Regions from separate parts of the Homo sapiens genome. Here region 2 is linked to region 1. The links come from fine-mapping of genetic effects on gene expression. A gene starts in region 1. The other region holds a variant in brackets. All regions are shown on one strand. Distances are from middle to middle. Region 1 holds the start of BID (BH3 interacting domain death agonist). Region 2 overlaps BCL2L13 (BCL2 like 13).

Region 1 (14,865 bases):
TTGTTAAGCCAACGAGGAGGGAAGCCAAGGACTGCCCCCGGCGCCAGCATGGCTATGAGCATAGAAGCGGGCTGAGCCACAGGCTGGGGGATCCCATGCAGACCAGGCAAAGCCCAGGCAGGATGCTCTGCAGAAAGTTCCCTGGTGATCCGGACCCGGAGCCAGACTGAGCCGCAGCCCCAGAAGACAGGTATCTCCTCCCCTGGGGCCACAGCAGCCACAGAGGCCACCCACGGCTTCCACTAGGACAGTGTGTCTTTCCAGTTACTCTACGTACCTAAAAGTGACCAGCCCCCTTTCAGGTCTGGTCTATGATCCAGATGGTGATCTTTCCCCCACTTTTTTTTTGAGACGGAGTCTCGCTCTGTCCCCCAGGCTGGAGTGCAGTGGCGCGATCTCGGCTCACTGCAAGCTCCACCTCCCGGGTTCACACCATTCTCCTGCCTCAGCCTCCCAGGTAGCTGGGACTATGGGCGCCCCCCACCACGCACAGCTAATTTTCTGTATTTTTAGTAGAGACGGGGTTTCAACGTCTTAGTCAGGACGGTCTTGATCTCCTGACCTCATGATCCGCCCAACTCGGCCTCCCAAAGTGCTGGGATTACAGGCGTGAGCCACCGCGCCCGGCTGGTCTTTCCCCTTTAAGACCCCACTTCCCACCCCCACCCTGGCCAAGCTGATAGGATTCAAGGAGTGCGGCGGTGCAATCACAGCTCACTATAGCCTTGACCTCCCGGGCTCGAGCAATCCTCCCGTCTCAGCCTCCCAAAGCCACTTCCTCCTTTTCTTAGTTGTTGGCTTCTTCTACAGAAAAGGATCCTGAAAACAAACACCTAAAATGCCAACCAAGAATTCAATCTGCAAGGCAGCAGCACCTCCAGAAATAGCTGCTTTGTGGCCTGTTTGCCATTTATGTGAAACTTCCCCATTTTGGACCAACGCAGGCAGAAAGAGAAAAGGAGGAAGAGGAAGGAAAAGAGGCAGGCTGTGTTGGGGCTGGATGGGGCTGTAGGAACCTGCCAGCAGTGGCTCTTGGGGAAAACCCCACTGCGAGGTTTCTGAACCCCTGCCCCGGAAGCTTCCCCTTTCCCACACACGTCACTCGCTGCCTTGGAATCTGGGCTGCCTCCCTCCCAGGGGCTCACAGGGGAGCGAGGCCACAGAAAGGCTCCTTACCCCCAGTGGCCTAACAGGTGTGACATGTGGAGGGGGAATCTGGGCAGTGTGCCTGATGCTCAGAGCTGAGACCCTGAAGTCCAACTCCCTCGGGTGTGACCTTGGACAAGTTACTTAGCCTCTCCTTGCCTCAGTTACACCATCTGGAGAATGGGGATGCTACCCTCGTCTGACCACCGTGATGTGAGCCAGTCAGCACACATCAAGTGCTCCGTGAGCGTCCGGCACACAGGTGCTTGTCTCTGTCCTGTGCTTCAGCTCCATCAGTGTCTTCTTCAGACCTGTCATTGGCTTGGGGCAAGGATATATGTGGCCGCTGAGGGCGGTCCGCCAGGTATGGCAGCCATGGAGCTGCTAATTAGGCCCTGTGAGTGGGAGGCCCTGTGGGGTGGGCAGGGGCAGACGCCCAGCTGCTCTCGGGGACACTCCAGGCCTGTGCTGCCCTCCACAGCCCCAGCTGGAGAATGGTGACCAGATGTCAACGACAGGAAGCATTTCCAGAGGCCACAGCTCTGCAGGGAGGTCTCTCATGGGCTGACAGCCAGAGCCAGCGCTCCGGGTCCCCTGAAAAAACGGGCACAGTCCTCGGTCACGTCGAGGACCTGCTCAGCCCCTCCACTTGGCACCGGAGAGAGGATGACTCACGGCCCTTCTGCCTGGAAGGCAGGCTCCAGTGTCAAATGTCCATCCGCCTCCATCACCCTCATCCATCCTTGTCAGTCCAGGGGCCTGGGCACTGCTGGGGCTCCTGGGCAGACAGTTCCCCCTTGCAAATGAGTGGGACCCTCAGCTCCTTCGATCAGCATCCTCACGTCAGCCGAGCCTGTGAGCACCCCTAAGCAAGGCCTCTGAGCTGGGCATGCGACACCCCTTCCCACCCAGGCACCCTCCCCCTAGAATCCCCCATACCACCCTGGGGCCATGCCCCGCTTCCCTCTCTGGCAAGCTCCTGCACAACCTTGAGACCACCTGACAGCCACCGTCTATCCTGCCCAACCTCCTCAGAAGCACTAACAGCACCTCGCCCCAGCCACGGCAGGTCTCTGCACCCCTCGTCTCAGTCACCACTCTCACATCTCATGAACAGAGACACGAGCTGCTTCCTCATGCTCCCTGTGCCCGTCCTGGGAGATCCCTGCCTTTAAACCCCAGCCACGAACTGCTGACCCCGCATTTCCTCTTCCCTCCCTGGGCAAGAGGGGCAGAAGGGGCAGGGACGCACACCCTGGGCCGCAGGCAGAGGCTTGGCCAGGGTCGTCCTCCCGGCAGTGCCTCCCTGGAGCTCTGTCTACCTCAACTCCTGATGCCAGAGGATCCCTCTGCGCTCCCCACACCCTTAAGACCCCAGCTCAGGGAATCTGGTCTCGGTCATCACTCCCAGGGGACTGCAGGGCCCCAGGACGGCACACATTCAGGCCCAGGAGAGCTCCCCCCATCTCAAAGCCTCCTGTGGGTGGAGATGGAATGTGGAAAAACCGCATCCTCTGCAGCTCCCCCACAGTGAGAGCGAGGACTGAGGGTGTGGATAAGGCTCCAGGAAGGGGGTGCAAGCCTGAGAAGGTGGAAGAGCTCTGGGTGGGTCCATCTGCTCCTCACCTGCCCCAACCCTGCCTGCAGGTGAAGGCCGGTCCAGCCGCAGAAGGCCCAGCCCCCAGCCCACTTACAGAATCCGCACTGTGCTCCTCCAGCCGGCCCGGCCCCTCGCTGCCCACCGAGCCATCATGACCCCAGCACCGCTGCACATTCGTATTTGTTGAATGAATGAATGAACCCTTGCCAGCCCAGCCACTTGGTGGCTGAGGGCTTCAGAGCTCTCCCAGGGTCCCCTGGGGTCATTCAGCCACTCAACAGTTTCCCAGCAGCAGCAGCGAGGATCCGCACATCATTGCCAGTGCTCTAAGGAGCGGGCGAGCCCCAGTAAGCGGCCGCTCTGACCGCGCTTTGTCAGCCCTGAGCTCCGCTCGGGAGGAGCCGGCAGGTGTCTGCGGTGCTGGAAAGACCACGGTGTGGGCGGGGATTCCGATCCGCCGGCAAGGGTGGCCTGCACCCGGCCAGGCCCGCGGGTTTTCTCCTCTCCGGGGCTGGCCTCGGCCCCTCCCCCTCCCCGCGCCCCGCACCCCTCCCCTGAATCCCCAGGCCACGTGGAGAGGACACAACAAAGCCTTCCCCGCCTCCGAGGCGGACCCGACCCTCAGCACCGACCTGCCGGCCGCGCCGAGGAGGGCGCCCGGGCGGAGGGGAGGCGGGAGAGACCCGGCCCTCAGGTCGCTGCTGAGGCCTGGGGCTCTGACCCCCCGCCTCCCCTCCTCTGGCTCCCACCGCGGTCGGGCCCAGGGCGGGCGGCGGGCCCTGAGCTCCACGCCGGGGCAGGCGGCAGGCAGGGGTCACGGGCTGGGGCTCGGCGCGTACCCCGGGAGGGGCGCGGGTGCACTCACCACCCTCCAGCCGCGGGGGCGCGGGCGCGTCCGGGCCGAGGCAGCGTCTCCCAGGCGCGCGGACACGGTCGACTACCCGCTTCCTCCTTATGGCGCCCCGCGCGCTTCCTCCTTCGGCCCCCCACGCCCGGGCCCGCCCCGGCCCGCCCCGGCCCGCCCCCGGCGGCTTGCGGGGACCCGGGGAGCCCGCGCCGGCGCGGGGCTGTGGAGCGGGGCGGGGAGCCGGCAGCGCAGTGAGAACCAGGCTTTCCACCCTTACCCCTTACGCGACTGTTTCAGACAGTGTCGTCCAACTTTAAGTTGGCCACTTACTCCAGCGCCGCTGGGATAATTCCTAATGATTCTCTGGGAAACATTCAGAATCCCCAGGCTGTTTCTGGAACAGTCTGGGGTGGTCATTCTAGGTCCTCACGGAACCAGGGGTTTGGAAAGTGGGTGAAGCCATGTGGGTTGCAGAGAATCTGGCCCAGCCCCTCACCAGTCCCTGTGCTTGTTGTTTATTCTTTAATTATTTGGATATCAACTCTGATTTAAAACATCAGTTTAACATATAGATAATGCTGGGACTACAGGCGCACACCACACCCAACTAATTTCTTTTTCAGTTTTTAGTGGAGGTGGTGGGGGGGGGGTCTCCACCTCTGGAGGTCTCAGGCTGGTCTCGAACTCCTGGGCTCCAGCGATGCTTCCCACCTCGGCCTCCCAAGGTGCTGGAATGACAGGCCAGTCCATGCATCCCCGGATGCAGCTCTCACCGGCAGTGCTGCTGCAGAGCCCTTTGTGGGCGTCTTCACTTCTCTTGAGTGTGATACCTAGGAGTGGAAATGCGAATCATAGGGCTGGACGAGCTTCATGGTATTAAAAACTGCCTGCTTTCCAAGGTGATGCACACCGTTCGGCACTTCCACCAGCCCTGTTGGAGCGTCCAGTTGCTCTGCGCCCTCGCGTGGGCTCACTCCCTGAGCCCACTGTGGCTCCTCCAGACGCCCTCACTTCTACCCGGGCTCCCTAGACTCTTGCCTCTTTTATAAAAGGTCAGAGGATGTCACTCACGCTTTAACATCCTCTGAATAAAAGCCAAGTTCCTTTCAGTGGCCCGCAGAGTCCCACGCGACCTGCCCTGCTCTAAGCAAATCCTACCCTGTCCCTGTTCCTCCTCGGCAGCCCCATGGCCTCTGGCTTTCACCAGGCCTCACTTCATTTTCCTCCACAGCCAGCATCGCAGCATGACATACCACGGAGTCGTTTGTGTGTGTGTTGCCTACCTCCCCTCTCGGAATGTAGCCTCCACGAGGACAGGGGCTTGTTTCCTGCATGCTCTTCACTCGGGCTGGGCACTCTGGGGGGCTAACAAATGGAAGATCCTGTGAGCAGGGAAACCGTCAGATGGCATTAGGGGCCGGTGCCCTGCAGAAGACGAAAGGGAAACTTCATGGACTGAGGCCAGGTCATCTGCAGGGTGGTGTTCAAATTCATGGTACAATGTCAGCAGGCGCCCAGATGGGAAAAGAGAGGGACGTGCACCTGGGCACAAGAAGCTGCAGGGGCCCCTCCCAGGGCAGGCGAGAGCTTGGACAGTGGGGCACAGTGGGCAAGAGGCCAGTGGGGTGGCCTGAAGGCAGGAGGCTCCAGCAGCCTGGATGAGCAGTTGGATTTTATCCTCAGCACTGTGGGGGCCACTGGCCCTGTCATGCAGGGCAGGACCTGTACCAATTGGCCCCCACAGTCTCTGCCTCTCCTGTTGGCTTTTTGCAGGTCTCTCAAGTGCTTCTTACAGTCAGGGTAGAGCCTCCCCGCCTCAATCCTCCCTGTCCTGATCTGCTGCCTCTATGATGCTTTGGGCTTCAAAATCTGTCTGCAGTATTTGTAAAATGAGAGAGGGTGATGTTTCCTGCAAAACAACCACTTCAAAAAGAAAGGGGGGCGGGGTGCCAGAAAACAATTCAGGGGGTGACGGACTGGGGGGCTATGGAAGGGTCCAGGGAAATTCCGGGGATGATGGGATTCTTCTATACAGGGATTGTGGTGGATGCCACACAATTGTACACTTTTGTGAGAACTCTGCACGAAGAATGGTGAGTTTTACTGTATGTAAAATTATACCTTAATTAACAAATGAAACAATATACACATACATGAGAGAATGATGACTTTATTTTTTTTTTTGAAACAGGATCTAGCTCTGTCACCCATGCTGGAGTGCAGTGGTGTGATCACAGCTCACTGCAGCCTTGACCTCCCAGGCTCGAGTGATCCTCCTGCCTCAGCCTCCCAAGTATCTGGGACTGCAGGCATGCACCGCCACGCCTGGCTAATTTTTTAAAAATTTTTTTTAGACGGAGTCTGGCTGTGTCACCCATGCTGGAGTGCAATGGTGTGATTTCCGCTCACTGCAACTTCTGCCTCCCGGGTTCAAGTGATTCTCCAGCCTCAGCCTCCCAAGTAGCTGGGATTACAGGCACCCACCACCATGATTGGCTGGCTAATTTTTGTATTTTTAGTAGAGACGGGGTTTCACCATATTGGCCAGGCTGTTCTCGAACTCCTGACCTCAGGTGATCTGCCCGCCTCAGACTCCCAGAGTGCTGGGATTACAGGCGTGTGCCACCACACCTGGCCTTTTTTTTTTTTTTTTTTTTTTTTTTTTGGGACAGGGTCTTGCTATGTTCCCCAGGCTGGTCTTGAACTCCTGGGCTCAAGTAATCCTCCCACCTCGGCCTCCCAAAGTGCTGGGGTTACAGGCATGAACCACTGCACCCGACCTGAATGATGTTTTTGGCAATGAAAATGAAACACAAAATCCAGCAAGGTTTGACGGGGAAGGCGAGCTGGCGACCACATAGTCACAGTCGGCCTTTGCTTCCGCTTTATGCTGCAGTTTCTCACTGTCACTTCCTGCCACCGGGCTCGTCTTCCTGTGAAAATTCAGCCCCTCTTCCTCAGTTACCCCTTTGCAACAGAACGAGGCCGGCATTTTCTAAAGCGTCCTTGAGGAGTCCAGTTCCTAAAAGATTATTTCAGAGTCCACTGTTGTGGGCTGACTTGAATGCTCTCAAAATTCGTAAGTTGAAGCCCTGACCCCCAGGACCTCAGAACGTGACTGTGCTTGGACACAGGGACTTTCCAGAGGTGATTAAGGTGAAGTGAGGTCACTGGATGGCCCTCCTCCTATCTGACTGGTGTCCTGATGGGGACGCGGACACCCACACAGGAACGGACCCGGGGAGAACAACACATCGTCTCTGCGCCAGGGAGAGAGGCGTCCGGGGAACCCAGCCGTGCCCACGCATTTATCTCCGCCTTCCGGCTCAGAATTGTGAGGAAACCCGCTTCTGTTGTGCAAGTCCCGGGTCTGTGGTGCTCGGCCATGGCGCCCCCAGAACTGCATCCCCACCTTCTGCTCTGAGCCACCCATCCCCTCTGGAAGGGCTGAGCTTCTCTCCCTTTCCACCTTCTGTTCTGAGCCACCCGTCCCCTCCAGAAGGGCTGAGCTTCTCTCTCTTTCACTGCCTATGCTCTGGGAAACTTTCAGAATCCCCAGGCTGTTTCTGGAATAGTCTGGGATGGTCATTTTCGGTCCTCACAGAACCGGGGGTTTGGAAAGTAGGTGAAGCCATATGGGTTGCAGAGAATCTGGCCCAGCCCCTCACTAGTCCCTGTGCTTGTTAGTTATTCTTTAATTACTTGGATATCAACTCTGATTTAAAACATCAATTTAACATACAGATAATGCTGGGACTGCAGCTTCGCCAGGTGGCCTTCCTCTCCCGGTCTCGGGAGGCGTCACCCCCATCTTGTCCCCCCAAGATCAAGCGAAAAGGGCAAAGTTATCTTTTTTTTTTGCAAAATTCAAACCTTTCCCTCCTTCCCAGGTCTGGGTCACTTGCGACCCTCCTCTCAGGCTGCTTCTGACAGGCCCAAGTCACAGCCAACTTCAGGGGAGCTGTGTTGGATCCCTCCAAACTCCGGGAATGATGTGACCTCCCCGGCGCTCACCCTGGGCCTCTAGGTTAGACTCAGCCCAGACCCTGGCTCACAGGGAAGCAGAGCCCATGGCTGGCCTCCACCCGCTCAGACGCCCGCACACAGGCCAGGGGAGGGCTTGGGGGCAGCTCTGGGAGGGTCCCTGTTTGCGCTGTGGGTGTCCAAGGCTGGGTGTGCAGAGCTGAGGTTGCCACACACCTGAGGGACTCTCGCATAAGGATGGCGCAGGGCTGGAAGCTGGACTGAGACAGTGAATGAGACAGCGCTGCCGGCTCTCTCCGCGCCGTGGACTGGCTCCTAGGCAGTCTCACGAGCAAGTGTGCTGTTGCTCGTGCACGTGTGTTTTAACTGAGATGTGAGCTGGCGCGTTTTCTCCACCCGGCTCCATCTGCTGGGTCCCTCCACATTGCTGCGCGTGTGCCTCCAGTGCCATGGGGTCCCCACTGTGGGCAGCCCTGCATTTTGCCCAACTGCCTCCCAAACCATGGAACCCCAGTGACCTCCAACTTGCCGCCATGACGAGCCACTCTCATTCATATCCTCAAACACGGTGCTCTGAGCCCGAATGAGGGTTTCTTTAGAGAGATATCTGGGGACCAAACTGTAGGGACAGAGCTCCCGTCTAAGGTGGGCCTGTGGTGAGGTCTCCCCAGTGGTACACTTTAATCCCACAGCAGGGCTTGCAGGCCGCCCTGCTCCATCCCCACCAACACTGGGCAGGATCTAGCCTCCAAACCTTTGCCAGTCTAATAGTATAAAATGATAGCTCGGTGCTATTTTGGTTTTGCATTTCCATGGTGAACAATGAGTTTGAGAGTTTTTGTTCAAAAGTCCTTTGGGAGTTCGAGACCAGACTGGGCCACCAGGAGTTCAAGACCAGCCCGGGCAATTCAGTGAGATGTTCATCTCTACAAAAAATAAGAAAGATAAAAAATTAGCCAGGCATGTTTGTGTGTGCCTGTGGTCCCAGCTCCTCAGGAGGCTGAGGTGGGAGGATGGCTTGACCCCGGGAGGTGGAGGCTGCAGTGAGTTGTGATCGTGTCAGTGCACGGCTAGCCTGGGCAACAGAGTGAGACCCCGTTTCTAAAATAAAAATAAAAAACAAAAGAGAAAAGTCCTTTGGGTTTCGTCTTGGTATTACTCAGCAGAGGACAGAGGTGTCAGTTTCCATCCTCCGGCAAGCAGATGCTGAGACAAAGCTCGGTGGGAGGTGACACCCAAGAGGAAGGGGCGGGATTGGACAGGGACAGCCTTCAGATCACAATGGGGATCGGACCCCTGGGAGGGGAGAGAGGGAGGAAGAGAACTGGTCGGCTGTGAAGCAGATCTGATAGGGCCCTGCTGCGACACCAACAGCAGCTCAGGGCCAAGGATGCTGTTGCAGGAACAAGGGACAGACCCCCCATACCACTGGCTCAGTGCCTGGAGCACGTGGCCTCTGTGGCTGCAGCCCGAGGCTGTCGGCTGAGGCACTCCACACACCTGGAGAGCACGTTCTCTGTGGAAGGAGACTGCAGCATTCCCACGGCTCCAGAGCAGTAGTGGCGGCACCTGGAGAAAGAAGTCCACCACCTTCCTGATGGCGGACTCTTTCTGCAGGCTCGCTGCAGTAACAGACTGGGAGCTCCGGACCTGGCGTATTGCTAGCTCAGTCTGACGGGGTCCCGGCTTTCCTCTGAGGTTCTCCTCCCAAGAGTGCCGAGATTGATGCTGTCCCATCCAGCGTCTCCGCGGTCACCAGCTCTTCACATCCCTGGGTGAAGATGGGGAGACAGTGCGCGTAGCTTACTCCCGAGTGACTTGGGATAGAAGCCACGGCACAGAACTCTACAAGGGACACTGGTGCACTGAAGAGCAGGGTGCGGTTCTGACCAGAAGCATCTGTGCATCTGGAGGGCAGAGGGTGCGTGGGCACGGGGGTCTGGGCAGGCCTCCCAGGGCAGAGGTCAAGAGGAGGGCGGGAGGCCTCTAGCTTGGTGGTTAAGAGCTCAGCCTTCAGAGTTTGTTTTCTCAGCTCTATCCTTGACGAGCTTCGTGAGCTGTAACTGGCCAGGGGCTGCCCCCAGAAAAGCTGGCCTCCAGCTCCCCGCATCCTGAGGCCCCAGATCAAGTTTCTTGGGCCCCAATTTCCTGTCATCAAAGAGATGATAGTACATTCCTCAGAGGCGGGCTGTGAATACATGAAACGCAAGGTCTTAGGCACCCAGCATGCGCTCAGGAAGCGTGGCTTGTGATTACCCGGCAGTGCGGTGGGAGGCTCCTAGCAGCTGTGTGTGCTGTGAGTGGGGTGGCTGGGGTCCCTGTGGGAGGTGCTTCAGAGTGGGGGCTGGATGGCGGCTCCCGAGGGGCATGGGGAGAAAGACAGGAGCAGAGGGGCTGCCACGCACTGCCCTTTTCCCCTTCCACCCCAGTCCCCTTCTCAGTGCACCCTTGGAACTTCACCCCCTCCCTGCCAGCTGCCCCCACCGCCTTCCCCTGTCCTGAAGCCCCTGTCCCTACCATCCGCCCCAGACACTTCCATGCTCTTCTTGAGGGTGGGCTGTCTCCAGGTGCCGCTCATTCCCCGGCCGGGCTGCTGTGCTCTCACTGAAGCTCAGGTGCTCTCAGAAGCAGAAGGAATGAGGGGTGGAGGGGCCAGTGTCCTCCTGGCCTGAGGACAGGGCTGGGGAGGCAGGGGCAGAGGTGGCCTGTCCCCTGCTGGCCAGGGCTGACACGCGGTAATGGCTATTACCAAGTGGGCCATTTCTCCCTCCTGCCCCTCCAGGCATCTCATCCCCCCACACTGCAGGAGGTGAGGTCTGCACAAGGCCTCTGCTCCCCTGGGAATAAGCCCATGCGTTCCATGGTGCCTCCTAAGCCCCTGAACTGGAGCCCACCCCAGTACTGGCGGGGGCCTGATTGCTGGAGTGAAGGCTTCCTCCTTCCTGGCCACCCCATTCCCCTCATCTCTGGGACAGAAACCGACAATAAACGCCTGCCCGAGACCTGGGTTGGAAAAACAGAGTGAACACACACCATCACATGGCAGGAGGCCAGGTGCACAGAGCCCTCCCTGCAGTTAGTTCCCCAGGAACTGGGGCTGCAGGGATGGCCCAGAGCTCTCAGCCAACATCAAAGGGCCACAGCACCGGGGCTGGTGGCTCCTGGCCAAGTCAGCACCGACCACAGAGCTCCCCTCTCTGCCTAGACCCAGGGCTCTGCCCTGACAGCCTAGAGAAGGGCCTGGCTGGTGGTGCCTGGCTGGGTGGCTCCCTGCCTAGGAGGTGCTTTCCCCAAGCGCTGGGCCTTGAAGGGCCGGTGGGTTGTGAGGGCAAGAGTCTTGCTAGAGGAGAGGGGAGAGATGGCGAGATGCAGGACCAGAGCCTGGGGGGGTGAAAATCATGTTCACCCCCATGGTGAAATCACGGCCATGGTGAAGACCAGTCCCACCCACTGAGCGGAGGCAAGTAGACCCCAGGAATTCCCCAGCCCCGCTGCTGGGTGGGTGTGACCCTGCAGAAGCTCTGGGAGGCTGGCATGACTCAGCTGTTGCAGAAAGACCAGTCTGGGGTTTCCCATATTGCTTCAAGCAGCCTTTTCCCTGGGACTGCTCTATCTAATGCCAACAACCCTCAGCTGCTAGTGAGCCCTCGCCACCAACTTTCAGAGGGCTAACTCCTAAGGCCCAAGGGCTGGAAAACTCCAAGCACAGCCCTCCCAGAGTCTGGCTGTGGCTCAGAATGGGTGCTGGGGCAGGGCGAGCAGGATTTCCCAGAGGGAGCTGGGCCCTCTGGCGTCCGCCCCAGGGCTGGCCCAGCCCAGGGACCCCCATGATATCCTTCCTCTCACCCTGCCCTTTCTGAAGTGAACTCTTTGGATATTGGCCAAATCACACCCAGCAGAGGGAAGGGAGTGGAGGTCCCGGTGTGGGGGTCCCGGCGTGGGGTGGCTGTGCCCAGCTGGAATGTTTTGCATGGTGATTTGTTAGAGGGATATTGAGCAGAGGGCAAACCACCACTGTGTCTAGCATTCTGCTCAAAGGTGCAGAAACCAAGACTGCCACGTGCAGAGTGAACGGCCCAGGCTGTGGCCCCCCGGGGAGGGGCTGAGTCTCAGCACTGCAGCCTTATGCTGTGCGCAGTTCAGACCTGCGATAGGCGAGAGGCCAGCAGACACACGCCTCGCCTTACGTGACGTTTCTGCCATCTTCATTCCTGTGTTCGCTTCTGTACCAAATCTCCCCCACACACGATCTGACCCCGTGGCATCCTTCCTTTCCTACAAACTGCACTGAGACCCAGGTGTCATCGTGAAGTTCATGCCAGCCAGAGGAGCCACTGTGGCGTTTCCGGCCATAGGCCTGGGCAGGAGCCGCTCCCAGGCGTGCCGTGGGCAGGGCCGGGTCAGCCTTCAGGGAAGAGATGCCTGTATGGGACCAACTCAGGCAGCCACAGAGGGATGGCCCAGCACCCCACAAAACCCAAAGTGCTCAGCGTCTAGGATCTGTTTACGGGGCAGAGAAGTGGATGTTCTTTTCCTGGTTCAAAGGTAGAAACAGGCTTGGAGAGCCGCACCCGGCATCAGCCAGCCAGGCAGACGCCTGGTCTAGCGCTTGGTTCTCACAGGCATGTGGCCTCCAGTAAAAGATCTTCCTGGAGAGAGGGATGAAGGCTCTTGGGATCATCTTTAGAGGTGCTGATGGAGAAGCGGGGGGGGGGGGCCTTCAGGTGGGTGTGTATCCCTTTATCTAGAATGCTTGGGACCAGAGGTGTTTCAATTTTTCAGATTTTGGAATCTTTGCCGACATGATGCTCAAAGGAAATCCTGCATTAGGGAGTCTTAGCCTGTATCTCCGCTGGCGTGGAGGAAAAGGACAGGAAAGTTTTGAATGGCGGATCCACCCAGGGGACTTCCCTGGATGGGGCGCTGCCACCCCTGGGCCCTGTGTGGGAAAGCTTCAGTACTACACGGTGCCACCGGCTCCCAGCCCCAGCTGAGCTCACCGTCCAGCTCTCAAAGCCAAGGGCAATTCTTTGGCACCTGAAAATGCATCTAAAACTATGACGTTTATAGCTGCCTTAGCCCTACTTAATCTCTATTTCTCTACACCAAATCTCTCTACTGCATGTGCTTACGCCTACGTGCTCTGCTGCCATGGTGCCTTGCCAAGAGCGTGGCTGTGCTTTAGTTCTCCCCGGGGCCTTGGAGGACTCTCCAGGGAGGAGGAAAGGATGGTGCTAGGGGGAGGAGGCTGGGGGTGGACCTTGTTCTGATGCCCCTTGTCTCATGCACGAAGTTCTTCACCCTCCTCCAAACCTTGACCTGGTGGGAGCAGAGACTACCCCCTCCCTGGGGCCAGGGATAGGATGCTCATGCCTGGGAAGGCCAGCAAGCCTTCCCCGCTTACTCAAGGCTCTGCAGGGTTCTGGGGGCCGGTGCTGTCTTTGGTGCCATCCGATTGCTTCTGCTTGTGGGCCTCACCCTAGGGCTGTTCACCAAAGTCCTTCTTATCACAATCCTGGCTTGAAATAAGTGGGTTTCCAATTTTTTATCCCTGATCTTGCCTGGATCTTGATTCTGAGACTCCTCCCATCCCACCCTCTCCAACAGCAGAGACCCCTCCCATTAGCTGCACGCGATTGCTCCGAGATAACAAAGCATTGGCAGATGCTGGTGGAGCAGGCCTGCCCTTGACGTGGGCAAGAAGCTTGGGGAAAAAGACAATTTCCTGCTTGTCTTTTCTTGTCAAAATACATGGCCACACCAGGGGAAGGACAGGAAGAATTCTCTTACCAGCCAGCAGCGGCAACTTAGCAGCTACAGACACAGAGCGCAGGGGACGGGCGGGAATGACTGGCCATGGAGGAGCCGAGAGAGTCGGGACCTGCAGGAGCTGCCTGCTGAGGCGGTCTGGCTGGGCAGGTGGTCCCTGTGCTGGGGCCTCCGGGTGGAAGGCATCCCAGCCCCCCGAGGGAACAAGTTTGGTCCGAGATACATTTTTGAAAGGTATTTAATTCTCTAAAAACATTTTTAAAAGAAGTGAGACCCACTGGGGAAAGGGAGCTGCTGGCTGCCAGGTGCCTCTCTCTCCTTTTCTCCCGAGAAAGACCTGGCAGCCACTCTGCCGGGGAGACAACCGGGGGCTAGAGGGGCAGGCCCTGGGCCGGGCGCAGTGGCTCACGCCTGTAATCCCAGCACTCTGGGAGGCTGAGGTGGGCGGATCACCTGAGGTCGGGAGTTCGAGATCAGCCTGACCAACATGGAGAAACCGCATCTCTACTAAAAATACAAAATTAGCCGGGCATGGTGGCGTGTGCCTGTAATCCCAGCTACTCAGGAGGCTGAGGCAGGAGAATCACTTGAACTTGGGAGGCGGAGGTTGTGGTGAGCCGAGATCGCGCCATTGCACTCCAGCCTGGGCAACAAGAGCAAAACTCTGTCTCAAAAAAAAAAAAAAGAAAAAAGAAAAAAGAAAAGAAAGGCAGGCCCTGGACACTCATGGGGGCTGACCACTGAGAGGCTCCTCTCGCCTGCTGGGCCGGGTGCCTGTGGGTTGAGCAGCCCCTCAACGCTGACACTCCAGCACCCATCTGGACAAATCCCTCATCCTTGACGATGGCCTTGTGAAGACCCAGGGACCCGTGGCCTGTCCCTGGAGCTGCTGCTGGGACACCAGCTCTGACCTGCTGCCTGGGTGGAGGGGTGGCTGGGGCAATGGGGCCGGCTGAACCCTCTGGGAACACGGACTCCACGGGGGCCCAGCAAGTTCGTGAAACAGGGAGGCTGGCCTCGAGCTGCAGGGGGCTGCCTCCCGAGTCCTCCTAGGGTTCTCCCATCAGGAGGCATCTGTGCATCTACACGGGGCCCGACTCCGGAACCTCCAGCCTTCCCACGTGCTCCCCCATCCTAAGTTGGTCAGCAGTCCCAAGTCGGTGGGAGGAATGCGAGGCGCCGGCCGGGTGAGTGCTGTGACCAGGCTGACGTCGGGGGAAGAGACAGGAACACATCCCGCCAGGACACCGAGCTGGTGCTCACCTAACTTGTGCTCCCTGCCGCCCTCTTGTGGGTGGGCAGACACCAGCAGCTTCAGTCAGTCTCGTGTCACACAGCTGCGCGAGGTAGCTCCACACGCACCTACGCGTCTGGAGGATGCTATCCCTGGCTACTTTGGGGACCACTCAATACTGGCAGCCTCACCACGGTTCAGGTGTTGACTGTCCAGGGAGGCCCTCAGCCCCATCCACCTAGTCCTGAGCCACCCCACCCTGGCCCCACCCTGGGCCCCACGGCT
Region 2 (14,865 bases), 50 kb before region 1:
AGGCGGGTGGATCACGAGGTCAGGAGATCGAGACCATCCTGGCTAACATAGTAGAAACCCTGTCTCTACTAAAAATACAAAAAATTAGCCAGGCATGGTGGCGGGCGCCTGTAGTCCCAGCTACTCGGGGGGAGGCTGAGGCAGGAGAATGGCATGAACCCGGGAGGTGGAGCTTACAGTGAGCCGAGATCGTGCCACTGTACTCCAGCCTGGGGGACAGGGCGAGACTCCGTCTCAAAAAAAAAAAATATATATATATTTCCACGTGCCCCACGCCGCATTTCAGATGTGCGAAATTCAGACATTCAGGAGCCTCTTCACCTGATTCAAATTGTTCCACAGTTCCTGTGGGGATTGTTGAGTATCTACTAATCTCATGTTCCCAGGAAGTAGCAGAGCCCTGTTCATATTTACATTCTTTTAGTTTTTAAATTTTTGTTATTTTTTAATTTAAAAAATTTTGTTATGCTGCAAAAAGCTTTATTCCATTTAGTCCAGGGCTTGGGAGAGGGCTTCAGCGTGGTTAAAAAAATACATTCTTTTAAATAAATGGAAATAGTTTTTTTTTTTAAGTCATGACACTTATAAGAAATTTTTTTTTTTTTTTTTTGAGACGTAAGTCTTAATGCCACCCAGGCTGGAGTGCAGTGGTGCGATCTCAGCTTACTGCAACCTCTGCTCCCTGGGTTCAAGCAATTCTCCTGCCTCAGCCTCCCAAGGAGCTGGGATTACAGGCATGTGCCACCACGCCTGGCTAATTTTTGTATTTTTTAGTAGAGGCAGGGTTTTGCCATGTTGGCCAGGCTGGTTTCAAACTCCTGACCTCAGGTGATCCACCCACCTTAGCCTCCCAAAGTGCTGGGATTACAGGCGTGAGCCACCACACCCGGCTAATTTTTTATGTTTTTAGTAGAGACGGGGTTTCACCGTGTTAGCCAGGATGGTCTCGATCTCCTGACCTCGTGATCTGCCCTGCTCGGCCTCCCAAAGTGCTGGGATTACAGGCATGAGCCACCGCGCCCGGCCAAGAAATTTTTATGATGCACACTTTTCTTGTTACCTTGCCCCTTAGAAATAACTCATAATGGTTTGGTGTACGTTTTTCTAAACATGTGTTTTGCTTATATAAACATTTTATTATGTATAAATATATGCAAATAAGTAGATATGTATATATGTGCATTTAGTAAATAGGATCATACCATCCATTTTCCCACAGAGTTATCTTTGCCACAAATCATGTGACCTTATATATCTAGTTCTGGATTCTATTTTATTTAATTGGTCTAATTGCCTCTGTTTTTTTTGGAATTGAGACAAGATCTTGCTCTGTCATCCAGGCTGGACTACAGTGGCACGATCATAGCTCAGTGCAGACTCAAACTCCTGGGCTCAAGGGATCATCCCATTTCAGCCTCCTGAGTTGAGTAGATGAGACTACAGGGGTGTGTGTGTGTGTGTGTGTGTGTGTGTGTGTGTGTGTGTGTATGTAGAGATGATGTCTTACTATGTTGCTCAAGCTTGTCTTGAACTCCTGGCCTCAAATGATCCTCCTGCCTCAGCTTCCCAAAGTGCTGGGATTACAGGTATGAACCACTGTGCCCAGCCAGGTCTAATTGCCTATTTTTAAGCTCTTACCATGCTTATACAATCAGTGTGCCTTTGTAATGGGTTGAGTAGATACCTGGTAGTGTCAGCTCTCAAACTGTTGTTTTTCAAGATCAGCTTAAATTCCTTGGCCTTTTTAAATTGCTATATAGATTTTAGAATTAATTAGTTGTCAATTTCCATAAGAAAAAACCTGGTAGGATTTTATATTGGAGATTGTATTGAACCAAAGGGTTAATCTGGGAATAGCTGACATCTTTACAATAGTTTTCCAATCTATGAGCATGATATATATATCCCTTTAGGATATCTTTAATTTCTTTCAATAATACTTTGTAGTTTTTTATGTAGAGTTATTGTACAATATGGGCTTCCTTCCACATTGGACTTAAAAATGTACTTCTTTTTTAATAGTAGTTAAATAGTTTGGATGAACCATATATATTTTTAAACTTTCCTGAGGGTATTGAAGACTGTTTGAAATCCTTCTGTATTAAAAATGATGCTAATGAAAATCCTTGCAAAATGTGTAAGCTTGAGACCTGATTACAGCTTCCGGTTAGGATCTCCATGTCTTTGCTTACTTAGCTGAACCAAACCCTCCCTGTGTCTCTCTCTATCTGTCCCTCTCCCTCTCTCCCTCTCTCTTTCTCCCTCTCCTGAATGCATCCTCTTCTGGACCATTCCAGTGGTCCTTACCCTGAGGCTGGGGCAAGCTGTCATCCTCAAAAGCTGGGAGGCCTAGAAGCCCTCTCTTCCAAGCCAATGGGCCCTCCAATTTTCCTAATTGTATACTGCAGTACTGTAATTTTTAAAGACAGATTTTACTTTACAGTTTTGTGTTATCTCTGCTTAGAAGAGATGGAGGAGGAAGGAAAAGTTTGTAAATTACCTTCTTTAGCCAAGGGAGGGTATTGTTTCCATTTGTTTTCACTTCCTTATTGTCCCATCCAGTTGGTATTTTAGAATAGCTCTTTGTCCTACCACCATACCACCAAAAACAACAATTAAAATGACAACACAAACAATAGCAAGTTATGAAATAGCATAACTTACTGATTACTTCCTATGTACAAAGTACTAATCTAAGCACTATAAATACTATACCTCGGGCCGGGCGCGGTGTCTCACGCCTGTAATCCCAGCACTTTGGGAGGCCGAGGTAGGTGGATCACGAGGTCAAGAGATTGAGACCATCCTGGCCAACATGGTGAAACCCCGTCTCTACTAAAAATACAAGTATTAGCTGGGCATGGTGGCGTGCACCTGTAGTTCCAGCTACTCGGGAGGCTGAGGCAGGAGAATCACTTGAACCTGGGAGACGGAGGTTGCAGTGAGCCAAGATTGCACCACTGCACTCCAGCCTGATGACAGAGTGAGACTCCGTCTCAAAAAAAAAACAAAAAAAAACAAAAAACAAACTATACCTCATTTTAAAAATGAACTCAAGTCCAGGTGTGGTGGCTCACACCTATAATCTCAGCACTTTGGGACACTGAGGTGGGAGAATTGCTTGAAGCCAGGAGTTTGAGACCAGCCTGGGCAACATAGAGAGACCCGTCTCTACAAAAAATAAAAAAACTTAGCTGAGTGCAGTGGCCCATGCTGTTATTCCCAGCTACTCAGGAGGCTGAGGCTAGAGGATCCCTTGGGACCAGAAGGTTGAGGCTGCAGTGAGCTGTGATCCTGCCACTGCACTTCAGCCTGTGTGACAGAGCGAGACCCCAACTCTAAAAATACAACAAAAACAATCTTATCTAGTCAGTCATCCCCATTTTATTTGTGAAGAAATTGAAGTCTAAAAGTTTAAGCAAGGTATCCAGATTCGCACAGCTGGTACACAGTTGGAGCTGGGATACAAGCCAGTTGTTTTTGACTGTGAATTTTGTGGTCATACTGTATTATTTTAACCCCCTGATTATTCCATACTCATAGAACATCCTTGATGCTTACCAGGGCCTCTGAAGTGGCTGGAGCAAGGGTCGAGGTAGAAAGTGGTGCAGTATGATGCCGACATCATGGTCGTGTGATTTATTTGTATTTCTTATTTCCTTTTTTATGGGGCTGATAGACTTTTGATTTATGTTAGATCCTTGATGTATGTAGAAAGTTTTTGGTTTTGGTTGAAGAATGAAATTATCCTACTTCAGTTGAATAGCAACCATAATCATAAAATGAAGTAGAAATTAATTTGCTTTACATATTCCATTCAGATTCCCTGTAGCTTTTACGAGTGTTGTCTAGCCTTTGTATGACAATTTCTGTACATCTCTGTGACATTCCATTCCATTGGTTCTCTTCCTGTCCTTTTATTGCGCCTTACCCTCTGGGTTGGCCTAGCCCCTTGTGCATACACCTGTCATAAAGCTTTCTGTATCATATTGAAGTTAGTTATTCATATGTCAGGCTTCACAGCTGCCTAGTAAATTCTGTAAGAATAGACCCATTCTTTCTCGTAGCCCTTGTGCCTGACACAACCCTGATAAGCAGTAGGCACACGGTGGCCTGTTATTAATAGACATGGACACAAGGCCTGTGCTGTAGGGCTTTATTGCTTTCACTCAGACTTCCTGACAAAAGAAGCAAGAGTCTCCGTGTCTGCAGCATTTCTCCATTCTGTCTCTGCCATCAGAGGAATTTTAAAGCAAAGCTCTGATTATAATTTTGTACCTCAGAGATGTCAGTGACAAACCATCGCCTGTTGGATAAAGTCCATATTTCTTAGCTGTCATTCAGGTTCCTCCATGGTCCTGTCCTCACTGACCTTCTATTCTTCATGGGCACTCTGCATTAATTAAACAGGGCTCTGTCCTTATCTTCTTTTTTTTCTGTCTCTGTGCTTTTGCCTGCATTGTGTCTTCTGTGTACCCTTCGCCTGCCAAAATCTTACCCATTCTTCAGATGTCTGATAGAAATGCTAGTCCCTCCGTGAGGCTTTCTGTGATCTCCCTGCTTTCTCTGACCTCTACCCAAAGAGGTCTTTTTCCCATCTGAACTTTTTTTCTTCTTCTTCTAAGGAAAGCAACACTGCCATATGAACTCTTAATGGCACTTGGACTATGACATAGCATTATTTGTATACCCTACTAAGTGATAAATTCCTTGAGCACAAGGTCTTGCCTTTGTTTTCTCTGCTGTTTTGCATTAATTACTGCATTGAACATACAGGGTGAGTATCCCTTATCCAAAGTGCTTGGGATCAGAAGTGTTTTGGATTTTAATTTTTTTTTTTTTGATTTTGGAATGTTTGTGTGTATGTGATGAGATGTCTTGGGGATGGGAAAGCCCAAACATGACATTTACTTCTTTTTGTATGCACCTTATACATATAGCGTGAAGGTAATTTTATATAATATTAATATATTAATTTACAAATATACAATATTTATAACATAAATATATATAATATTTTGTGTGCATGAAGCAGATTTTTGACTGTGTTTTGCCTGCAACCCACCACATGAGGTCAAGTGTGGAATTTTCCACTTGTGATGTCATTTCAGCACTCAAAAAGTTTCGGATTTTGGGCCGGGCACAGTGGCTCACGCCTGTAATCCCAGCACTTTTGGGAGGCCAAGGCGGGTGGATCACTGAAGGTCAGGAGTTCCAGACCAGCCTGGCCAACATGGTGAAACCCCATCTCTACTAACAATACAAAAGTTAACTGGGCGTGGTGGCAGGTGCCTATAATTGCAGCTACTGGGAAGGCCGAAGCAGGAGAATCGCTTGAACCTGGGACGCGGAGGTTGCAGTGAGCTGAGATTGTGCCACTGCACTCTAGCCTGGGAGACAGAGCAAGACTCCATCTTAAAAAAAAAAAAAAAAAAACCTCAGATTTTGGATCATTTCAGATTTCAGGTTTTCAGATTAGGATGCTCTCAGCCTGTGTGTGAATTACACTGAATGTATATTAACTTAGGATTTTTTAGTTTCAAGGAGACTGCTCAGAAGACTGTCAAAAATTCTTTCTCTGCATTGGCCTACAAATACATGCATTCCATTCGGAAACTATGTAGGTTTAAACAGTGTTTCATTCCTAGAACTTCAGTTTAGGAAAGAATTTGCTTTCCAGATTGATGTTTATGTTTTAAATAGTTACCATTCTTTATTATTGACGCTTGTCCTTCGTTTCTAGGGCACTGTGTTTAGTCTTGAGTCAGAGGAGGAGGAATACCCTGGAATCACTGCAGAAGATAGCAATGACATTTACATCCTGCCCAGCGACAACTCTGGACAAGTCAGTCCCCCAGAGTCTCCAACTGTGACCACTTCCTGGCAGTCTGAGAGCTTACCTGTGTCACTGTCAGCTAGCCAGAGTTGGCACACAGAAAGCCTGCCAGTGTCACTAGGCCCTGAGTCCTGGCAGCAGATTGCAATGGATCCTGAAGAAGTGAAAAGCTTAGACAGCAACGGAGCTGGAGAGAAGAGTGAGAACAACTCCTCTAATTCTGACATTGTGCACGTGGAGAAAGAAGAGGTGCCCGAGGGCATGGAAGAGGCTGCTGTGGCTTCTGTGGTCTTGCCAGCGCGGGAGCTGCAAGAGGCACTTCCTGAAGCCCCAGCTCCCTTGCTTCCACATATCACTGCCACCTCCCTGCTGGGGACAAGGGAACCTGACACAGAAGTGATCACAGTTGAGAAATCCAGCCCTGCTACATCTCTGTTTGTAGAACTTGATGAAGAAGAGGTGAAAGCAGCAACAACTGAACCTACTGAAGTGGAGGAGGTGGTCCCCGCACTGGAACCCACAGAAACGCTGCTGAGTGAGAAGGAGATAAACGCAAGGGAAGAGAGCCTTGTGGAAGAGCTGTCCCCTGCCAGCGAGAAGAAGCCCGTGCCGCCGTCTGAGGGCAAGTCTAGACTGTCCCCCGCCGGTGAGATGAAGCCCATGCCGCTGTCTGAGGGCAAGTCTATACTGCTGTTTGGAGGGGCTGCTGCTGTTGCCATCCTGGCAGTGGCCATCGGGGTAGCCCTGGCTCTGAGAAAGAAATAGGAGGCTTTTCAGAAGAGAAAGACAGAAGGATGTAAGGTTGGAGTTGTATTGGCTGGAATTTGAACCTCCAGCAGCTGTCTGGACATTTGTGGAACACTCTGGGATAATTGGGGACTTCTGCTCAACATGGCAGTGGCATGTTAGGCATGTTAGGGCTTGAGGTGGGGCATTCACATTCATCTGACTGTAAATCCCAAGGGCCTCCGCTCATGCTAAATTGAGAATCTTAGGGGTAAAGCACCCCCTCCAGGACCGGGTTTCTCAGCCTTGGCACTAGTGCTGTTCTGACCATTCTCTGTGTTGGGGCTGTCCTGTGTGTGGTGGGCTCCACCCACTAGATGCCAGTGGCACCCCCTCCCAGAGATGACAAACGAAAATGTCTCTAGACATTGCCAAATGTCCCGTGTGAACATCCCCTATTGAGACCCACTGCTTTAGCGAGAGAGGGTTTACTTAGGAAGAATTGGGATAGAAATTCCCAGCTGAGAGAACTTAGCTGTGGGCTCCTCAGCTACTGACTTCTTAGCTCTTAATCCCCTTAGAATTTCATCTTTCTCGATGAGCAGGCTCTGCACCCACTCTTTTTTTGCCCCCCGCCCTCATCCTGGAGTGTGAGGGTGCTCGCCCGTACTCTCAGCTGCCTCTCAGGGACTGCACTGTTCCTCTTCACCCCCAGGTTCCTGCTAAGATCCCACGGGCGAGGGCTTGCTCTGGACTCAGTCTGTCAAGTCCCCGAAGCTTCCTGCAGCTCCACCTTGTAAAAATGCTGCCTTTGGGAATCTTCGAAATATGTACACAGAGAAAATCACATGAAGGAGACCTGGGGTCCCCACTTGTGAGTGCAACTGCAAGTAACTCTGGCTAGAGAGACACATGTGTCTTGTGTCAAGGCAGGAGGATAACCTGGATGACCTTCTGAGGTCTCTTCAGCCCTTTTCGCTAGTGGTCACCCACCACCATGGTTACTTGCCAGCAACATCTCTATTGCTGGATGGTCCCTGTCTATAACCTTGGGCTAGTATATTTTTTCCAATATGGGACCTTAGTCTTACTACTGATGAGTTCTATGGGTCTCTTGCTAGGGGGTAAGGATTTTTATTCTTGGGCTTATAGAGCCAGTTAGATCATAATTCTTATGAAATAGAGAGTGTCCTAAATATCACTGAAATAAAAAGTAGGAAAAAGAAGCTTGAATTTTAAGACTGAGGCTGCTCTGCAGATTCTAGTTTGGCTTTCAGAGTTCAAGAGTGGTGGCATCTTCACCTGAATTCTTCAATGCCAGGGTAATAAACCAAAATAGTCCTAATCAGTATATGCTAGTTGAGCATCGGCATAATTTTCTTTCCTCTGGCTGATCCCAGCCCTAAAGGAAGGGTAGACCCGTGTCTTTCCAGCCCTAAAGGAAGGGTAGACCCGTGTCTTTCCAGCCCTAAAGGAAGGGCAGACCCGTGTCTTTCCATGCCCGAGGGCCACGACGTCACTATGCAGGGCACACGTGGCTTGGTTTAAAAAGGTCATCTTAGATTTATCTTAGTAAATGTAATAAATTATTTTTTAGATCTTGAAATTTATAATAAAAATACTTTACCTACCCTGATCACCAAAACCTGATGTTTTAAATGTGCTTTCTTTTTGAAATTTATGTTTTCAAATAAAATCTCCCTAAAGCAATATTTAAAAATTGGTCAAAACAAGGTCTGGGAGTATGTTTGTGTGTCTTTCCAGCTTTATCCTGTAGCGTGTCTTTGTTCTGTGTTTTAGTGTCCCATTTAGGGAGTGATGTTTTAAGGGTTTTTGTGTACTTGGATTAAGTAATTAGAGGTGAGTGGGGGGAATGGGATTATTGAGGCAATGATTTTTTTCTTCATGGGCTCTGATAGTTGCATTGATTGTTCTGTATTCTAATTGCTATATTTGTGTTTGCATAGGTGAAGAGCAAACTGGTGCGTTATCTTGATTTTTAAAAAGTAATAAATCCTATGAGTTCCAGTATTAACACTTGCCAGTTCTGGATCCTCACACCCATTGGCTGAGCGCATTCAAGCACCAATCGAAGCCAGGTTCATCTCTGAGCTGCTGAAAGGAGGTGTGAGGCTTAGGAAATTGGAGCCTGTGTTGCCCACGAAAGGAAAGAATAAGGAAGAAATGTGGTATGGAAGCGGCTACTTGCTGCTTTATTTTCCCACCTGTTAGACATTCCTCCACAGTGATTTGGCCAGTTGTATTTCACGGTAATGGAACTAGATAGTGTTTTCCATTGGCTTTCTCTGGTAGCTCTTGGTCAGCTCCTGAGTTAACAGGATGTGGCAGCATCCCTGTTCTTCCTTCACGTCCTCACCCTCTGCCTCCAGCAGTGGAAGGGAACAGCCCTCATGAGGACTGCTTCCTACTGCAGCTCCTGCTTTTTGCTCATACATTTAAAAAACTATTTCTCAAGCTTCCCCTCCTTTTGGGGGGAGGAGCTGATAGTAGGAGGCCATTCCTTCCACCTCCAACTTATACCCTCTAAGTCTAAGGTGAAGGAAAGATTCAGAATAAATCCAACTTGTTTATAGAAAAGTTCTTGTTAGTCCTTAGACCTCATCTCAACTGCTCTGTTGAAGGTAATGATTTATTGGGGGGAAAAAACAACGCCAATTTATCCTCTCTGTATTAAAGTGATAATTCTGGGCCCACAGAAATCAGTCAGTACCTGCGGTGTGCCTTAAGGGGACTCTCATGATCATCATTCCCTTCTAGAGAACATTCTAGATGAAGAAATGCAACTGTTGACCTTCTGGTTCACCCATCTCCCCCTCGAGGCATTCTTGATACCCCTTCTCACCTGCATTTCTGTCCCAGGGATACCAGATGCAGCCACTACCTAACTAGGCTTGTCCTGGGGGAGTGAGCCGTGAACCTGGAGACATGGCTTTGACCCACAGCTACTGTTCATTTCCTCAGGCTTTGCGCTGATTCCCTCAATAATATGACAGTAAGGCAAGTAGTCTCCTTGCCTTTCTCCTGAAAGGTATGAGATGTGGACATTTCAGTGTTTGAATTATTTTAAGAGATGTTTTATAGAAATAAAACGTTTTGTAGCTAAGAATTTTCCCTTTCTCTTAATTTCTTACATCTTTCCACACAAACTTATCTTTCCAAGAATTTGAGGTGGTGATCATACCCATCAAGACGGCCTTGTAGGCTATCTGATTGCTAACAGACACGACCTAGAGCTTCTGCCCAAATTCCCACACAAGCATTATCTCGTTTAACATCTCAGCGACATACTGGATACCAGAATAATGTTTCCTCTTCTCTGGTGCACCAAAACCTGCCCTTAGTGATAATCTCTCAATTATGACATTCATTTGAGTTTAGGGTGTATAATTTTTCCTAAAAAAAATTCATGTCGATAATTATATTTTAGCAAATACTAGTTGAGCATTTATAACATGCCAGAGACGGTTCTAGTGCTCTCACATACCTTATTTCACCTTCACAGTTCTAATAGCTGTTTGTATTCCTTTTATTCCCATATTACAGAATGAAGAACCTAATCAGAGTTTGTTAGTTTTTCTTTTTCCTTTTTTTTTTTTTTTTTTTTTTTTGAGACAGAGCCTTGCTCTGTCGCCCAGGCTGGAGTGCAGTGGCACAATCTCGGCTCACTGCAAGCTCCGCTTCCCGGGCTCACGCCATTCTCCTGCCTCAGCCTCCCAAGTAGCTGGGACTACAGGCGCCCGCCACCATACCCGGCTGCTTTTTTTGTATTTTTAGTAGAGACAGGGTCTCTACTATGTTAGCCAGGATGGGCTCGATCTCCTGACCTCGTGATCCACCCGCCTTGGCCTCCCAAAGTGCTGGGATTACAGGCGTGAGCCACCGTGCCCGGCCCAGAGTTAGTTTTTCTAACGTCCTCAAGCATAGGCGAGGCAAGGCAATGATTTTGCCGGTTTTTATCATTTTCCTGGCACTGCAAAGCAGTATTGGCAGGTCCCCTGCAAACAGTTGCGCCAGTTGTTTACTGCATAAGGACTGACTGGGGACAAATTCCGACGTGCAGCCTGTGCTCTGCTCACCATGCTGTGGGCTCTGGGAGAAGCGAAGTATTTTTCTAATTTGTACAAAGGCACCATATAGGCTCACTTAAACATTAAGCATGTTCTACTACAAAAAAACAAGAGTGAGGGTTAGGTCCAGGACTGGTCTCAGCTTCCAATTATGTAGCTGTTTTCCCTGTAGACATTGAGTGAGATGCTTTGTGGTTACAGAATTCACAGTCATTGCCGATGAGCTTTCATTAGCTTTCTTGATTAAATATTTTTGCTT[G/T]TAGACAAGGTTAGGCAATCTGTCCCAGCAGTTATCACAAAGTGCTAAATGAGGGGGGTGAAGACAGCACCACGATGCATTTCTTGGTCTTTTTCTGTTTGTTCGAGTTCGTCCCTTCTCCCCTGTGTATGCCATCATAAGGGTGGGGCTGTGGAGTGAAGTAGGGGAATACCTGGAAGCATTGCTTGGCCTCTGGACAGACAAAGAGGTTGGGGACTTAGGAGGGTTGACCAGGTATGGCCACAAGTACGTCAGCTCCTGGAGGATCTTCCCAGTGAAAAGCCTCCTACTACATTCCACAGCACTTCATGGTAATTATAACCTTGGCTAGATAATACCTGCTGTATGGTACAGAATAGTGACATTCAATTACCTCATATATAAAGAGAGCTCCATGGAGAGCTGGAAAGTGCATGCCACTACAATATTAACACATCCCATCTTCCCTTTCTTTTTGCAAGGCTGTTGAATTTCAGCCCGGCATCCCCACACACTAACACCATCAGGTCTTCCACATTTGATGGTTACACCACAGGAGCCCACACCAGACTGCTGCTTCCCTGTGAGCTCAGAGTGAAATTGTTCTCAGGGGTATTTGCAAGGCCTTGTCATCAGTTAAAGACTAGCAGCTGACTCCAGGTGATTCTACCCCGCTGTCACCTCTCCAAAGGGGAAATTGAATAGTGGTATTGCTCACTGTGGTGAGTGTTCTTTGCACCACCAGAAGAAACTGGTTAATGAATGTACTATTTAGAAGAAAAGTTTTGACATTTAAAGATTACTAGTTGTTCCCTTTCCCCAGGAAAAGAAGGTCAAAGTACAGTCTTCCCTGTTGCAGAGTTTGGAATAACTCTGTTTGCCCTGATGCTTTCCAGCAGGAGAACTGTATTATGTAGAGGGGTCCTTGGCCAGCATCAAAGGAAAAAAATTATTTTTTTCCTAGACCTGTATTTTTCCTATTACAGTCTTCCATTTATTTCTTCCTCCAGATTAAAAGTGCCTCTTCCTACCTCATTCCTTAATTAAGGTCAATTTAGTGTTGGCTCAAATGCTTTCATCTCAAAAATACCGGAATTGAATGGTAATTTGGATAATTAAGTTATCGTGCATTTTAAGCAGCATGTGTTTCCTTTTTCCGTGTGAGTTCCATGAGCCTCTGCACTGCCGCTCTGCACTGCTGAACTGATCACTGTGGGTCATTCTGGCTCCTCTTCCTTCCTGTCATCTACCTTTTGGCCAATCTACTCTTCATCAGGGGAAAGGAACAAACTTCAAATCTGTGAGTTATTCTTTCTGTCAGAAGCAACGTGCTAGAGAGAATACATGGGATTTGAAGATAATCAGTGGACTCATCTTTCTATCCACATGGTAACTATGCCCTTGACAGGTGGTATCATTTCACATCATCAATTGTCTTTGTTAAGTCCATACTTAATTGGTTTGACTCCAGGTTTTGAAAACAAGATCGTAACATTCAAAGGACTCTATATTCCAATTCTCAGCTAGCACAACTAATAAAGTTGCTGGACAGTAAAACTAGGCGCCAGTGCTGTGATCCTTTAAGGAAGCCTTGAGTATCGCAGCAGTTAATGCTGGGTCCTAAGAGGAGAGGTCAGGAATGATTTGACCTTCTGAATGCACCAAATGTCCCACGTGACTTTCAGATACACCAAGCATCTTTTCAAGGAGAAAGCTTTTGATGTTTAACAAAAGAATTTCCATCACTTAATTCAAATATTTTTAAAACAGAAAGGAAAACACATTCTCTGAATTAAAGTCACCTTTGAATCATATCCACAAGGATTGTGTTACAGGGCAAAATCCACCAACTGCCAGGATATGCCCGAGTCACCATGGCTGGGAAGTGCTCAAGACTGGAACATTTGTGTTTGAGACAATGGAATCTTTTTATAATGTTGGCTTTGGGAGAAGGGGTGACGGTCTTGCTTTACAACCAAGACTATCTCAGACTTGGTCTGGAAGAATTTACACTAAGACCTGTTATAAAATGGTGGCCTACTGTATGAATTCAAGTGAAACAGAAGCAGGTGAAGATGCTGTGGAAGAGTCAGTGTGTGAGAGAGGTGGTCCAGAGTCACTTGCTGCTTAAGAACACTTTCCCATTAGTTCCGGGTGATGACTGCATACAGCTCCTTTGGGAAGAAAATGCCTCCCCCAGTGAGAATCTGATTATAATGGCTGACGTATGGATGGATGTGTAGGCGCAGTGTGGTTCAACCTGTTTCCATTGTGGTTGGAAAACTTTTTTAAAAGTCCACTCCAAAACATGAAAAGTCGTAGTGTTAGGAAGATTTATTTCCAAACAGTGGCCTCCACACTGCGCGGCAGCACTTCTTTTTAGTATTTGTAAGCTTTTGCCCACTTTCAATTGAGCCAGCCCTAGCGTGGTATGTATTGCATGCTGAACAATATAGAGTTTGTTTTTCCTTTCTGATGATTTTAAACTCTTAAAGAACAGGAAAGCATCTGGTAAGAAGAAATCATGAGTCCGTCAGTGCCCTTACTCATATGCGTCTCCAGTGGCCTCATGTTGTGGTCACAGGAGTTTCCTGTTCACAGCAATGTGTGTGATATGGACCCAGCATCCACTGTCGTGCTTTTAAACTGATTCCTGGGACATAGCTTACCACTGGAACAGCAGACCAGTGTTGCACTGTTTCTAAAGCTAAGCTTTTCCTTATTTATTTTGGTACTACCTAAGTGACTTGGTTTTGACTGTCCCTAAGAGAGGGAACCACTTTGCTGAATTTTTAAAAAGTCCAACTGCTCTTTCATCTTTTATGCTTAGAAACCTGTTCTCTCCAGATGCACTTCTGAGGCATGGATGAGCTGAGCGTATGGCTAGAAATTGGAAGTTTACAGCTATTACCAGGGGGCTAACTCCCGGGGCATCGCAGTAGCTTCTGGCACCCGTGGCTTCATGTCTTTAGCAAAGTCTTGATGTCATGGAAAGAGAAAAAGTGTATGCAGTTAGTTACCTGATTTTGTAAACAAACAGTGGCTGACCTGGGCCCTTAAATCACCTTCACACCTTTTAGAACCACAAGTGGTTCTTTTTGACTCCAACAAAGGAAACGAAGTTGAAAAAGTCAAGCCCCTGTGTACTGGGGCCGGACTTCCCATCATTTGAGTGCAGCACTTTAGTTCAGAATCTCTGTGCCATGTGGTTTTTTAAACAGGAAGATTGTTGGTTCCTTAGTATTAAGATAGATAGTCCCTATTTTGAGTGGAATTTTTCATTTGTAAGGGGTATGTTCCTTCTCTGATTCTTGCTTTCCTCAAACAGGATACTGCCTGCTGTAAGACCATCCTCTATGGTTGTACTTTAATAAACAGTAATTTTTTTTTACCAAAAAAATTGTATTTTGTTTCTACTTCCTTGAAACCTGCTTTCCAATTTAATTTTTAAGTGGGAACCTGCACAGTGGAAATAAAGGCACCGTGTGTAGATTTACAGATGTGCAGATTCATGTGTGGATGATATGAAGGCCATTCAAATACGTGTAAATGGACATTTTCATTCAAGTATATTAATGTAGATATTTTAAAGTGGGTTATAAGTTTAACATTGTCTTTAAAATAGAAGTCACAGCTATCTTCCAGCCTGTCTTCTCTAGGAACGCTGTTGACATGCCAGGGCTCCGTCTACACTGGAAGCAGCTATACAGCTGTGACCACATCGAGCTTTAGCCAGTCACACTTCTGGAACTGTCCGTTCAGTCCATCCCCTAGAGCAAGAAAGGAGAAAAAGCCAGAATCAGCTAGGCTCATTCACAAACCAGGCTCCAGAGCTCTGTGCCACAGTAGAGCAAAGCTGGGGTTTATGCAAAAACATGTTCTCCAGACCCCTGAAGTCCTATCCGTGCATCCTACTTTTTGCTACATGGGGGCAACTGCAAAAACAGGCCGTTCAGGCGGTGAGGTGGGTATTCACA

Evidence for each region. PIP is the estimated chance that this variant, and not a neighbour inherited with it, causes the effect.
Region 2: its variant is fine-mapped to the expression of BID in whole blood (INTERVAL, PIP 0.96).

What each region holds. Positions count from the first base shown.
Region 1 is chr22:17,770,770-17,785,634 of GRCh38, forward strand. It overlaps BID (BH3 interacting domain death agonist), which reads right to left and starts at 3,700. Exons shown (of 6, transcript NM_001196.4): 1 at 3,612-3,700. LINC00528 (long intergenic non-protein coding RNA 528) reads left to right here and starts at 6,521. Exons shown (of 1, transcript NR_103718.1): 1 at 6,521-8,712. RefSeq lists enhancers at 1,029-1,168, 6,556-7,035, 8,516-8,565, 8,833-9,740, 10,411-11,424 and 3 more and silencers at 3,209-3,538, 3,569-3,638, 3,659-3,708, 3,729-3,828.
Region 2 is chr22:17,720,934-17,735,798 of GRCh38, forward strand. It overlaps BCL2L13 (BCL2 like 13), which reads left to right. Exons shown (of 7, transcript NM_015367.4): 7 at 5,744-9,922. The coding sequence ends at 6,601. It overlaps BID (BH3 interacting domain death agonist), which reads right to left. Exons shown (of 6, transcript NM_001196.4): 6 at 13,205-14,658. The coding sequence ends at 14,647. Among named protein-coding and RNA genes, the nearest start is that of MIR3198-1, 36 kb to the right of the region's middle. The variant G/T (reference allele first, on the strand shown) is at 10,910.